Linked DNA regions of Homo sapiens: region 1 is linked to region 2. Evidence: fine-mapped expression QTL. A gene starts in region 2. The other region holds a variant in brackets. All regions are shown on one strand. Distances are from middle to middle.

Region 1 (5,368 bases), 45 kb after region 2:
TACAGCTTGTTTGACTCTCCCCAGTGCCTCCCAACATTCTGGGGATACTGAGAATTTACCCCAAAGCCTCTGCTCCCCCAGACCCCTACACTGGTTCCCAAGGCAAGGCTTCGGTCTCCCTCTTTTGCCTGCTCCTGCTCACATGTCCTCCATGGCTCCCCAGTGCCCTCAGGAGAAAGTCCAAACCTTACAACGTGGCATTCAGGGCTCCACCCCTCTGCCCCTGCCAGGCCTCCCCATCAGGGACTCCTGCTGTGCCAAAGACCCAACAATTCCAAGAGCCATCACACTGCTTCCGCACCCTCCGGCCCCACCGCCTTTGCACGATCGGAGTTGTCTTGCTATCTGGGATGCCCTCCCCCTCCTGGGCCTGGCAGAGGTTCCTGCGAGGGGTCAGGGGTTGGCTTAGAGCCTGTTTCCTGCTGGGGGAGGAGGGGGCTGTGGCTAAGTCCCGCTTCCGCTGGTCCTCTCCCTTCCTTCCCCGGCTCTTCCCTGGGGCCCGAGTGGCCTCACGTTCCTTGGTTGGCTCTGGGCCCTGGCCCTGGCCCCAGACTCCATCCTCAACCAGCATTTACCCAGCTCTTGTCCCTGCTGCCAGCCTGCAAGGCTCCATCTTTGCTTGAACTGGGTCAATGCACATCCCTCTGTCCTGGTCCCCAGCTCTTTGTCCCGTAGTCTGTTCCCCAACAGTGACCAGAGGAACTTGTGGATGCTTGAACTGGGTCATGCACATCCCCCGTCTGCTCAGGTCCTCACAGCAGCCACAGGCAGGGCTTGATCAGCTCCCATCACTTCCCTGCCCTCACCTCCTCCTCCCGTTCCCCTCCATCACTCCACTCCAGCCACACCGGCCTCTTCCCTCAAACACACAAGGCACGGTCCCACCTTGGGGCCTTTGCCCTGGCTGTGTCCTCTGTCTGGTGCACCCTTCCTGGGATCCCCCCATGGCTCCTCCCTCACCTCCTCTGGGTCTCTGCTTCAATATCACCTCCTCGGTGTAGCCTGCCCTGTCTCTGGTAGAAAGTTCCAACCTTCTTACGCTTCCTGCCCCTTTCTCTGTCTCGCCCATCACCAAAGGACCCTTGAGTGACCCGTTCATCTAATTTATTATCCATCTCTCCCACTAGACTGTGAGCCCCATGAGGGCAGCGGGTTTCTGTGCCTTGTTCCCAGCACCCAGCACCATGCCCGGTTACCAGCAGCTGCTCAATAAATACGGCTCGAATGGACACACGAATCATCAGAGGCGTTAACAGTGAACTTGAACAACATTAACCACGTGTCCAGCTCAGAGCCAGGGCTGGACTCCCATCTTAAGCCCATACGGCCGGGCGCGGTGGCTCATGCCTGTAATCCCAGCACTTTGGGAGGCCGAGGTGGAGGGATCATTTGAGGCTAGGAGTTCAAAACCAGCCTGGCCAATGTGGTGAAAACTCATTTCTACTATAAATACAAAAGTTAGCCGGGCCTGGTGATGCATGTCTGTAATCCCAGCTACTTGGGAGGCTGAGGCATGAGAATTGCTTGAACCCAGGAGGTGGGAGTTGCAGTGAGCCAAGATCACACCACTGCACTGCAGCCTGGGCAACACAGCAAGACTCTCTCAAAAAATAAAAAAGATTAAGAAAATAATGCCAGGCGCAGTGGCTCATACCTGTAATCCTAGCACTTTGGGAGACGGAGGTGGGCGGATCACCTGAGGTCAGGAGTTTAAGACCAGCCTGGCCAACATGGCGAAACGCCGTCTCTACTAAAAATACAAAAATTAGCCGGGTGTGGTGGTGCATGCCTTTAATCCCAGCTACTCGGGAGGCTGAAGTAGGAGAATCACTTGAACCTGGGAGGCAGAGGTTACAGTGAGCCGAGATGGCACCATTGCACTCCAGCCTGGAAAACAGAGCGAGACTCTGTCTCAAAAAAAAAAAAAAAAAAAGGGCCGGGCGCTGTGACTCACACCTGTAATCCCAGCACTTTGGGAGGCCGAGGCAGGCGGATCACGAGATGAGGAGATCGAGACCATCCTGGCTAACACAGTGAAACCCCGCCTCTACTAAAAATACAAAAAATTAACCGGGCGTGGTGGTGGCCACCTGTAGTCCCAGCTACTCAGGAGGCTGAGGCAGGAGAATGGCGTGAACCCGGGAGGCAGAGCTTGCAGTGAGCCGAGATCGTGCCACTGCACTCCAGCCTGGGTGACAGAGCAAGACTCCGTCTCAAAAAAAAAAAAAAATTAAAATTAAAAATAAAAATAAAATCTTGGCCAGGTGTGGTGGCCCAGCCTGTAATCCTCGCACTTTAGGAGGCTGAGGCGGGCAGATCACCTGAGATCAGGAGTTCAAGACCAGCCTAGTAAACATGGTGAAACGCCATCTCTACTAAAAATACAAAAAAAATCACCCAGGCTGGTGGCGGGCACCTGTAATCCCAGCTACTCGGGAGGCTGAGGCAGGAGAATTGCTTGAACCTGGGAGGTGGAGGTTGCAGTGAGCTGAGATCACACCAGTGTACTCCAGCGTGGGTGGCAGAGTGAGACTCCATCTCAAAATAATAATAATAATAATAATAATAATAATAATAATAAAATAAATAATAAAATCTTTTTTAAAAAAAGCTCTTCCCATTGCAATTTTTGCCATATTCAGCCACATAGCTCCTGGACCAAGATTTACTTAATATTTGCCATTTAAAAAACGTTTTAGAGGCAGGGTCTTCCTCTGTCACCCAGGTTGGAGTGCAGTGGCGTGATCATAGCTCACTGCAGCCTTGAACTCCTCGGCTCAAGCAGTCCTCCTGCCTCAGCCTCCCAAGTAGCTGGGACTACAGGTGCATGCCATCATGCCTGGTTAATTTTTTTTTTTTTTTTTGAGACAGTGTCTCGCTCTGTAGCCCAGGCTGGAGTGCAGTGGTGCAATCTCAGCTCACTGCAACCTCCACCTCCCAGGTCCTGGTTCAAGCAATTCTCCTGCCTTAGCCTCCC[G/A]AGTAGCTGGGATTACAGGCACACTCCACCATGTCCAGTTAATTTTTTGTATTTTTAGTAGAGACAGGGTATCACCATGTTGGCCATGCTGGTCTTGAACTCTTAACCTCATGATCTGCCCGCCTCAGCCTCCCAAAGTTCTGGGATTACAGGTGTGAGCCAACATACCCAGCCATTACTGTCTTTATATCGTTTTTAAAGAAACTTACATTGATTTCCAAAGACACTCAGTCTCTACTTCTTTTTTTGTTTGTTTTTGTTTTTGCTCTGCCTCATGTGATCTGCAGGAAGGGACACTCAGTCTCATCAAGTAAAGGAAAGCTGGCGCACACATCACCAACAGAAAATGACTTTAAAATTTTCCATAGGCCGGGCACCATGGCTCATGCCTGTAATCCCAGAACTTTGGGAGGCCAAGGCGGGCGGACTGCCTGAGGTCAGGAGTTCGAGACCAGCCTGGCTAATGTGGTGAAACCCTGTCTCTACTAAAAAATACAAAAAATAACCGGGCATGCTGGCACGTGCCTGTAATCCCAGCTACTCGGGAGGCTGAGGCATGAGAATCGCTTGAACCCGGGAGACAGAGGTTTCAGTGAGCAGAGATTGCGCCACTGCACTCCAGCCCAGCGACAGAGTGAGACTCCATCTAAAAAGAAAAAGAAAGATTTTTTTTCCATAAGAGCAAGACCTCACGCCGAAGCCCAGCTGATGTGGGGCCCTGCGTCGGCCATCGATTTGGGAACACGGGAGATGCGCAAGTGTCTGGAAGCCGTTAGAGCAAGTTAATACCAGCTAAGGCTTTGTCTATTTTATTTTTTTAAACTAAACACTATATTAATGAGAATTTTATTTTTTCTCTCTTAGAGACGAGGACTTGCTATGTTGCCCAGGCTGGACTTGAACTCCTAGACTCAAGCAATTCATCCTCCTCAGCCTCCCAAAGTGCTGGGATTACAGGCGTGAGCCACTTTGTCCCACTAAACTGAGATTTTATCAAGGCTTAGAAGGAATAAGAGTGGGTCGGGTGTGATGGCTCACGCCTGTAATCCCAGCACTGTGGGAGGCTGAGGTGGGTGGATCACCTGAGGTCGGGAGTTCGAGACCAGCCTGACCAACATGGTGAAACCCCGTCTCTACTAAAAAAACAAAATTAGCCGGGCGTGATGGCGCATGCCTGTAATCCCAGCTGCTTGGGAGGCTGAGGCAGGAGAATCACTTGAACCCAGGAGGTGGAGGTTGCGGTGAGCTGAGATCGGGCCATTGCACTCCAGCCTGGGCAACGAGAGAGAAACTCCGTCTCAAAAACAAAAAAACAAAAGAAGAAGAAGTAAGAGTGGAGGCCGGAGGGGGTGGCTTATACCTCTAATCCCAGCACTTTGGGAGGCCAAGGAGGGCGGATCACTTGAGGCCAGGAGTTTGAGACCAGCATGGCCAACATGGTGAAACCCCAAAATTTTTACAAATTTTGTAGAAAAAGATACAAAAATTAGCCAGGTGTGGTGGTACACTCCTGTAATCCCAGCTACTCAGGAGGCTGAGGCAGGACAATTGCTTAACCCAGGAGACGGAGGTTGCAGTGAGCTGTGATTGCGCCACTGCACTCCTGCCTAGGAGACAGAGTGAGAGTCCATCTCAAAAAAAAGAAAAAGGAGTGGAAAAGGAAAAATCAACTCTCCCGATGCATGAGGTGGGTGATTTAATGCTGAGTCTTGTCCCAGCACCTCATTAGGTGCATCTAAAATTCTAGTGACTCAGCTACTTGGGAGGCCGAGGCAGGAAGATCACTTGAGGCCAGGAGTTCAAATCCAGCCTGGGCAACATAGCAAGACCCCTGTCTCTACAAAAAAATAACAATTTAGCTAGGCATGGTGGAGTGTACCTGTAGGCTCAACCACTGGGGAGGCTGAGGCAGGAAGATTGTTTGAGCCCAGGAGTTCGAGGCTGCAGTGAGCTATGATCGTGCCACTGCACTCCAGCCTGGGTGACAGAGCAAGACCCTGTCTCGAAAAAAATAATGATTAAAAAAATAAAATTCCAGTGACTCTCCCCAAGTTGCCCAGTTAACCCAGAGCAGACAGCCCCAGCCCACTTGCCCCCGGCCTCTCTCAGGGGAAGGCGAGTCAAGGGCAGAAGCCAGCAGGCCAGAAGCCCTTCCTGCGACCGTGAGGAGAGAAGCAGGCAAGGTCCAGGCTTAAGTACACATTGTTTTCTCGGCAGGTGGACGTCATTTCGGGGTAAACAATGTCAAGAGCTTCCCTGGTTCTCAGCCGAGGCCCTGACAGTCCTGGGCTGGGAGCCCGGGCCTGGCCCTGATTCTCCACTGTGTGACCCCAGGCTGCTCACTTCCCTGGGGCCTCAGTTTCCTCCTCTGAGAAGTGGGGATAATAATAG
Region 2 (5,307 bases):
GGTGATCTGCCTGCCTCGGCCTCCCAAAGTGCTGGGATTACAGGTGTGAGCCGTCATGCCCAGCCTGTGTCATAAATTTTATAGGTCTGGGAAGACTGGTGGAAAACTGTGTGTGTGTGCGGGGGGGTGTTTGTTTTTGAAACAGGGTCTCGCTCTGTCACCCAGGCTGGAGTGCAGTTGTCGGATCCCTGCTTACTGCAACCTCTGCCTCCTGGGTTCAAGCAATTCTGGTGCCTCAGCCTCCCAAGTAGCTGGGATTACAGGTGCATGCCACCACGCCCAGCTAATTTATGTATTTTTAGTAGAGGGGAGTTTCACCATGTTGACCAGGCTGGTCTTGAACTCCAGCCCATAAGGAGTTTGAATCTTCCACTTGTCCCTTGGGGATGTTTGATTTTGAGCAAGAATTTAACACTGTGAGGTGCATTTGTCGCCTATAAAATGCAGTGCTGGTTTCTCCTCTGCTCTGTTGCTGTTGGAGTAATAATACTTAGTAGCTTCCACTTAGCAACTTCACTGTGCAATTGCTGTGTGCTGGGTGCCCATTCTTTGCCCTGGAAGTCAGGAAGGCAGTTTGGACACAGAGGTGTCAGGGCTGGGAGGGGGATTGTGAGGGCTGTAGGACTTCAGGGAAGGTACCTGACTTGCCTTTTTGAAGAATGCAGTCAGGGAAGTCTTGGAGGAAATGGCAAGGTCTGGGAGAGCCCAGACATAGAAGGAATTGGTTAGAGGTGAGGACACAGGTGGGCAATGAAGACCGCAGGTGCCCATAAATGGGGCCAAGGAGGTGGGATTGAATACTAGGGAGTTACGGGAGGTGGTTGAGCAAGACGGTGTCGAGGAGGAGCTAGGGAGTGTTATGGTTCTTATCTTCTAGGGCTGCTTTAAAAACGTAATAAACACAAGAAGATGCCGGCACGATGGCTCCCAGAACTTTGGGAAGCCAAGTCTGGAGGATTGCTTGAGGCCAGAAGTTCGAGACCAGCTTGGGAAACATAGCAAGACCCCTGTGTCTTTTTTTTTTTTTTCTTTTGAGAGGGAGTTTAGCTCTTGTTGCCCAGACTGGACTGTAGTGGCTTAATCTCGGCTGACTGACACCTCCGCCTTCTGGTTTTAAGCGATTCTCCTGCCTCAGCCTCTTGAGTAGCTGGGATGACAGGCGCCCGCCACCACGCCCGGCTAATTTTTGTATTTTAGTAGAGATGGGGTTTCACCATGTTGGCCAGGCTGGTCTCAAACTCCTGACCTCGTGATCCGCCCGCCTCGGCTTCCCAAAGTGCTGGGATTGCTGGGATTACAGGCGTGAGCCACCGTGCCCCGCCTTTTTTTTTTTGAGACAGAGTCTCCCTCTGTCCGCCAGGCTGGAGTGCAGTGGCGCGATCTCAGCTCACTGCAAGATCCGCCTCACTCACGGTTCACGCCGTTGTCCTGCTTCGGCCTCCGGAGTAGCTGGGACTACAGGCGTCCGCCACCACGCCCGGCTAATTTTTTGTATTTTTAGTAGAGACGTGGTTTCACCGTGTTAGCCAGGACGGTCTCGATCTCCTGACCTCGTGATCCACCCGCGTCGGCCTCCCAAAGTGCTGGGATTACAGGCGTGAGCCACTGCGCCCGGCTGGCTTTTTTTTTTTTTTTTTGAGACTGATTTTCGCTCTTGTTGCCCAGGCTGGAGTGCAATGGCACGATCTTGGCTCACTGCAACCTCCGCCTCCCGGGTTCAAGTGATTCTCCTGCCTCAGCCTCCCTACTAGCTGGAATTACAGGCGCAGAGATGGGGTTTCACCATGCTGGCCAGGCTGGTCTCGAACTGCTGACCTCAGGCGATCTACCCGCCTCGGCCTCCCAAAGTGCTAAGATTACAGGAGTGAGCCACCGCACCCGGCCGAACCTCGCATCTTAAAAACACACAGACACACAAAAGCTCTAGAGAGCCTCGCGGAGCTGTAAACTACAGCTCCCAAGAGACTTCGCGGCCGAGGCCTCCGCCCACTTCCGGATCTCACTTTCATTGCTTCCAAGTACCGGGAGGTGCTTTGCTTCTTCAACCGAACTTGACCACAATGGGAGGAGGCGTGGCAACCAATGGGCGCATGAGTTAGCTGGATGCGGCCAATGGAAGCGTGCAAAGCGCTCCTATGTGGGGGCGGGGCTAGACTGCACACCAATGACAGGGAGGTGGTGGCGCCATCAGTGTGGGCTGTGCCGTGGCTGGAAGTTACTGTGAGGCGGCGGCTAAGAAGGCGGCTCTGGTGGCGGCGGTGGAGGCTGAGGCGGCGGCCGAGGCGGCGACGGAGGAAACAGAAGATGGTGAGGATGGCCTCCAGGCCCCCACTCCCCCTCTGCTAGACAAAATGGCGCTGTGGTCCCACCCACCTCTAGTATCCCCCTAGGCCCCTCTCCGTTCTGCCCGGTCCCCTCAGGTCCGGCCCGCCCCTCCCACTCACCTGTGACCTTCGACCCCCGGACCCTACCGAGAGCTTCCTGCTGATCCCACTGCCACTCCTTCTCCGACCCCTGACCCCATCCAGGATACCAAGCCCTGACAACTCATTCATTTCCGGGTTGCGGCTCCCCCCGGAAATCGTCTGGGGTGGGGATGGGGTCCCGTAAGACCCCCTGGTCTGGCCTCGTTCTCAGCACGCCGGACCTGGATCTCTTCAGTTCAGGAGAATTTGGGAGGCCGGCCTGGGCCCCGGGGCGGGGGAGGGGGCTTGGCACCGCGATATGCAGGGCTTTGTCGCCAAAGGAAGTGCGACATCGCCGATTGTCCCGGTTCCCCGGGCCCTGACCCCACCTCCACCATTCTGGGCCCTTACCCGCCTCTAAGAATGAAAAACTTTTATCTCCGATCCGCATGGATTGTCCCTGTGAAATGAGGGTAGCAGTAGTCTGAACCTCTTAGGGTGGTGACAATTTAGGTAACTGACGTCGTAAAGGACTCAGGATAGTGAATGCTCAACAGATGAGCTGGGTGACTCGAGGCCAGTGACGTTCTCTTCTAGCTGTCCCCTCATTATGAAGTGTGGATCGTCCCCACCTGGCTGTTGGAAGGTTGAAATTCCTTCAGGGTTCCTCAGTCATCCTGGAATTTGGGTCTGGTGGTTCTTCGGGGTTCAGTCTCCCCACCTGAAAAGTGGGATGGTGACCCACCCTCAGAGTGGAACTAAAGCCTCTCCACAACCCCCATTAGTTGGCATCCTGAGGGCTGGGAAGGGTGATGGGAAGCTTGGTCAAGATACCTCAAGTCTCCTTTGTCCCCTGACCCAGAGTCCCAGCCCACAATCCACAGTCCTTGGGATGTGGTGGGGATGAAAGGAAGACTCCCTTTCAGGAAGGAAATGGGAAGGTGGGTTCCTAGTGTGCGGGTCCCCAAGCCTGGGAGTTGTCCTTGATACCTTGGTACAGTCTCATCCCTACAGCCAATCATAAGTGGATTAGATTGTCTCTGCCTTCTGAACACACCTGAATTCATCCATGGCTTCATGCCCTGTTGCAGGTACTGCCACTTCCCACCTGCATACCTGTCCCAGCTTCTTCCCTGGTCTCCTAGCCTTGCTCTCACCCCTTTGGCAGTTCATAATTCACCTGAACCAGAAGGAACTTTTTTTTTGGAGTCAGGGTCTCACTCTGGCGCCCAGACTGGAGGCTCAAGAGATCCCCACACCAGGCTCATTTTTGTACTTTTTGGAGAGATGGGGATTCCCTATGTTGCCCAGGCTGGTCTCAAACTCCTGGGCTCAAGTGATCCTGCCTCAGCCTCCCAAAGTGCTGGTATTACAGGTGTGAGGCACTGCATGGGGCCTGAGAAGGAGGTTGTTTTTTTTTTTTCTTTTGAGATGGAGTCTTGCTCTGTCGCCCAGGCTGGAGTGCAGTGGCATGATCTCGGCTCACTGGAACCTCCGCCTCCTGGGTTCAAGCCATTCTCCTGCCTCAGCCTCCCAAGTAGGTGGGACCCACCACCATGCCCGGCTAATTTTTGTATTTCTAGTAGAGACAGGTTTTCACCATATTGGCCAGGCTGGTCTTGAACTCCTGACCTTGTGATCCACCCGCTTCGGACTCCCAAAGTGCTGGGAGTACAGGTGTGAGCCACTGCGCCCGGCCAGAAGGAGCTTTTAAAGATGTGCATCAAATGATACCACTTTCTAGCCTATAAAATGCTCCAGGAACCCTGGCGGCTCCCCTCCTCACCCTGAGGCCCCTGGCCACCTCTATGACCTTATCTCCACTCTCTTCTCCACTCTGTCTGTGAGCTTCAGCCACCCTGGCCTTGTTTTCACTTCCTCACACTCCAGGTTCCTGCTACCCCAGGGCCTTTACACCTGCTGCTCTTTCTGCTCGGAACACTCTTCCTCCTGTGATCGAGGTCATTCCTGACTTTGGGGGGCCCCCAGTTCTCTGCTATTAGTGTACTGCTTCTCTTTCTCATCTCTTTGTTGGGTCTCTGGCAGGCTACCTGCAGTGGGACTGGCACACAGGTGTCCAGTGCGTGTCTGCTGAGGCACCTGTGAGGGCCCAGCCGTGGCTGGCATTTGTCTGGAATGAGGCCTCCCCCACCCCCTGCCCCCATGTCTCGAGGCCTTGTTTTCCAGCTTAGCATGACAGGAAGGCTGCACGTACCCTGCCTTCATTCATTTGTCCAACGCAGACATGTTGATCCTAAAGGCTGCCCCTGAGGGAGCTCTGTGCAAAGCATTCCCCTTGTTGTCTTATGACTCAGAGTAACCCTGGGAGGTGGCCCTGTTGGAATGCGTCTCTTCACAGGGAGGCCCAGAGGCTGGGAAGTCCCTCGTCCCAGGTCACACAACCAGGGACGGGCTAAGCCAGGATTGAGAGCAGAATGCCCGGAGTACCTGCACCTCTCGCCACTCAGCCACCGGGCCCTGTGTGAGCCCGGCCAGGGTTCAGTCAGCCCTGTCCTGTCCTCTTCCCTTGGGGAGGTACCAGTCCAGCCAGGGAGGTGGACATGTAAGCAGATGACCTCGCCGGGGTGTGAGGGAGGCTCTGGGAGAGGCTCCCGAAGTGTCGGGGGAACAAAGGGGCCAGGGAGGGTGTTGGAGCTGGTGGGGAGGTTAGCAGGTATTTGCCACATGGAGGCATGAGGGGCATTCCTAGAGGGTGTGTGTGGCAGAGGGTGTGTATGATGGGAGTCCAGCAGGGGCAAGCTGGGCCAGGGCTGCGAAGGGGGACAGGGACCCCTCCTCACCCTTCAGGTCTCAGTGCCTGCATCCCTGCGTCTGGGCAGCCCTCCTTTATCCCCTAAATGGGCCAGAGCTCTGCCTTGCACCTCACACTGCGCCCTCGAGG

What was found. PIP is the estimated chance that this variant, and not a neighbour inherited with it, causes the effect.
Region 1: its variant is the best candidate, but not a certain one, in a credible set for the expression of DDA1 in whole blood (INTERVAL, PIP 0.59).

What each region holds. Positions count from the first base shown.
Region 1 is chr19:17,352,683-17,358,050 of GRCh38, forward strand. The region is part of intron 5 of PLVAP (plasmalemma vesicle associated protein); the gene reads right to left. Among named protein-coding and RNA genes, the nearest start is that of GTPBP3, 18 kb to the left of the region's middle. The variant G/A (reference allele first, on the strand shown) is at 2,978.
Region 2 is chr19:17,307,351-17,312,657 of GRCh38, forward strand. It overlaps DDA1 (DET1 and DDB1 associated 1), which reads left to right and starts at 2,213. Exons shown (of 5, transcript NM_024050.6): 1 at 2,213-2,307. The coding sequence starts at 2,305. RefSeq lists enhancers at 1,516-2,077, 1,799-1,988, 2,078-2,641, 4,867-5,307 and a silencer at 2,429-2,528.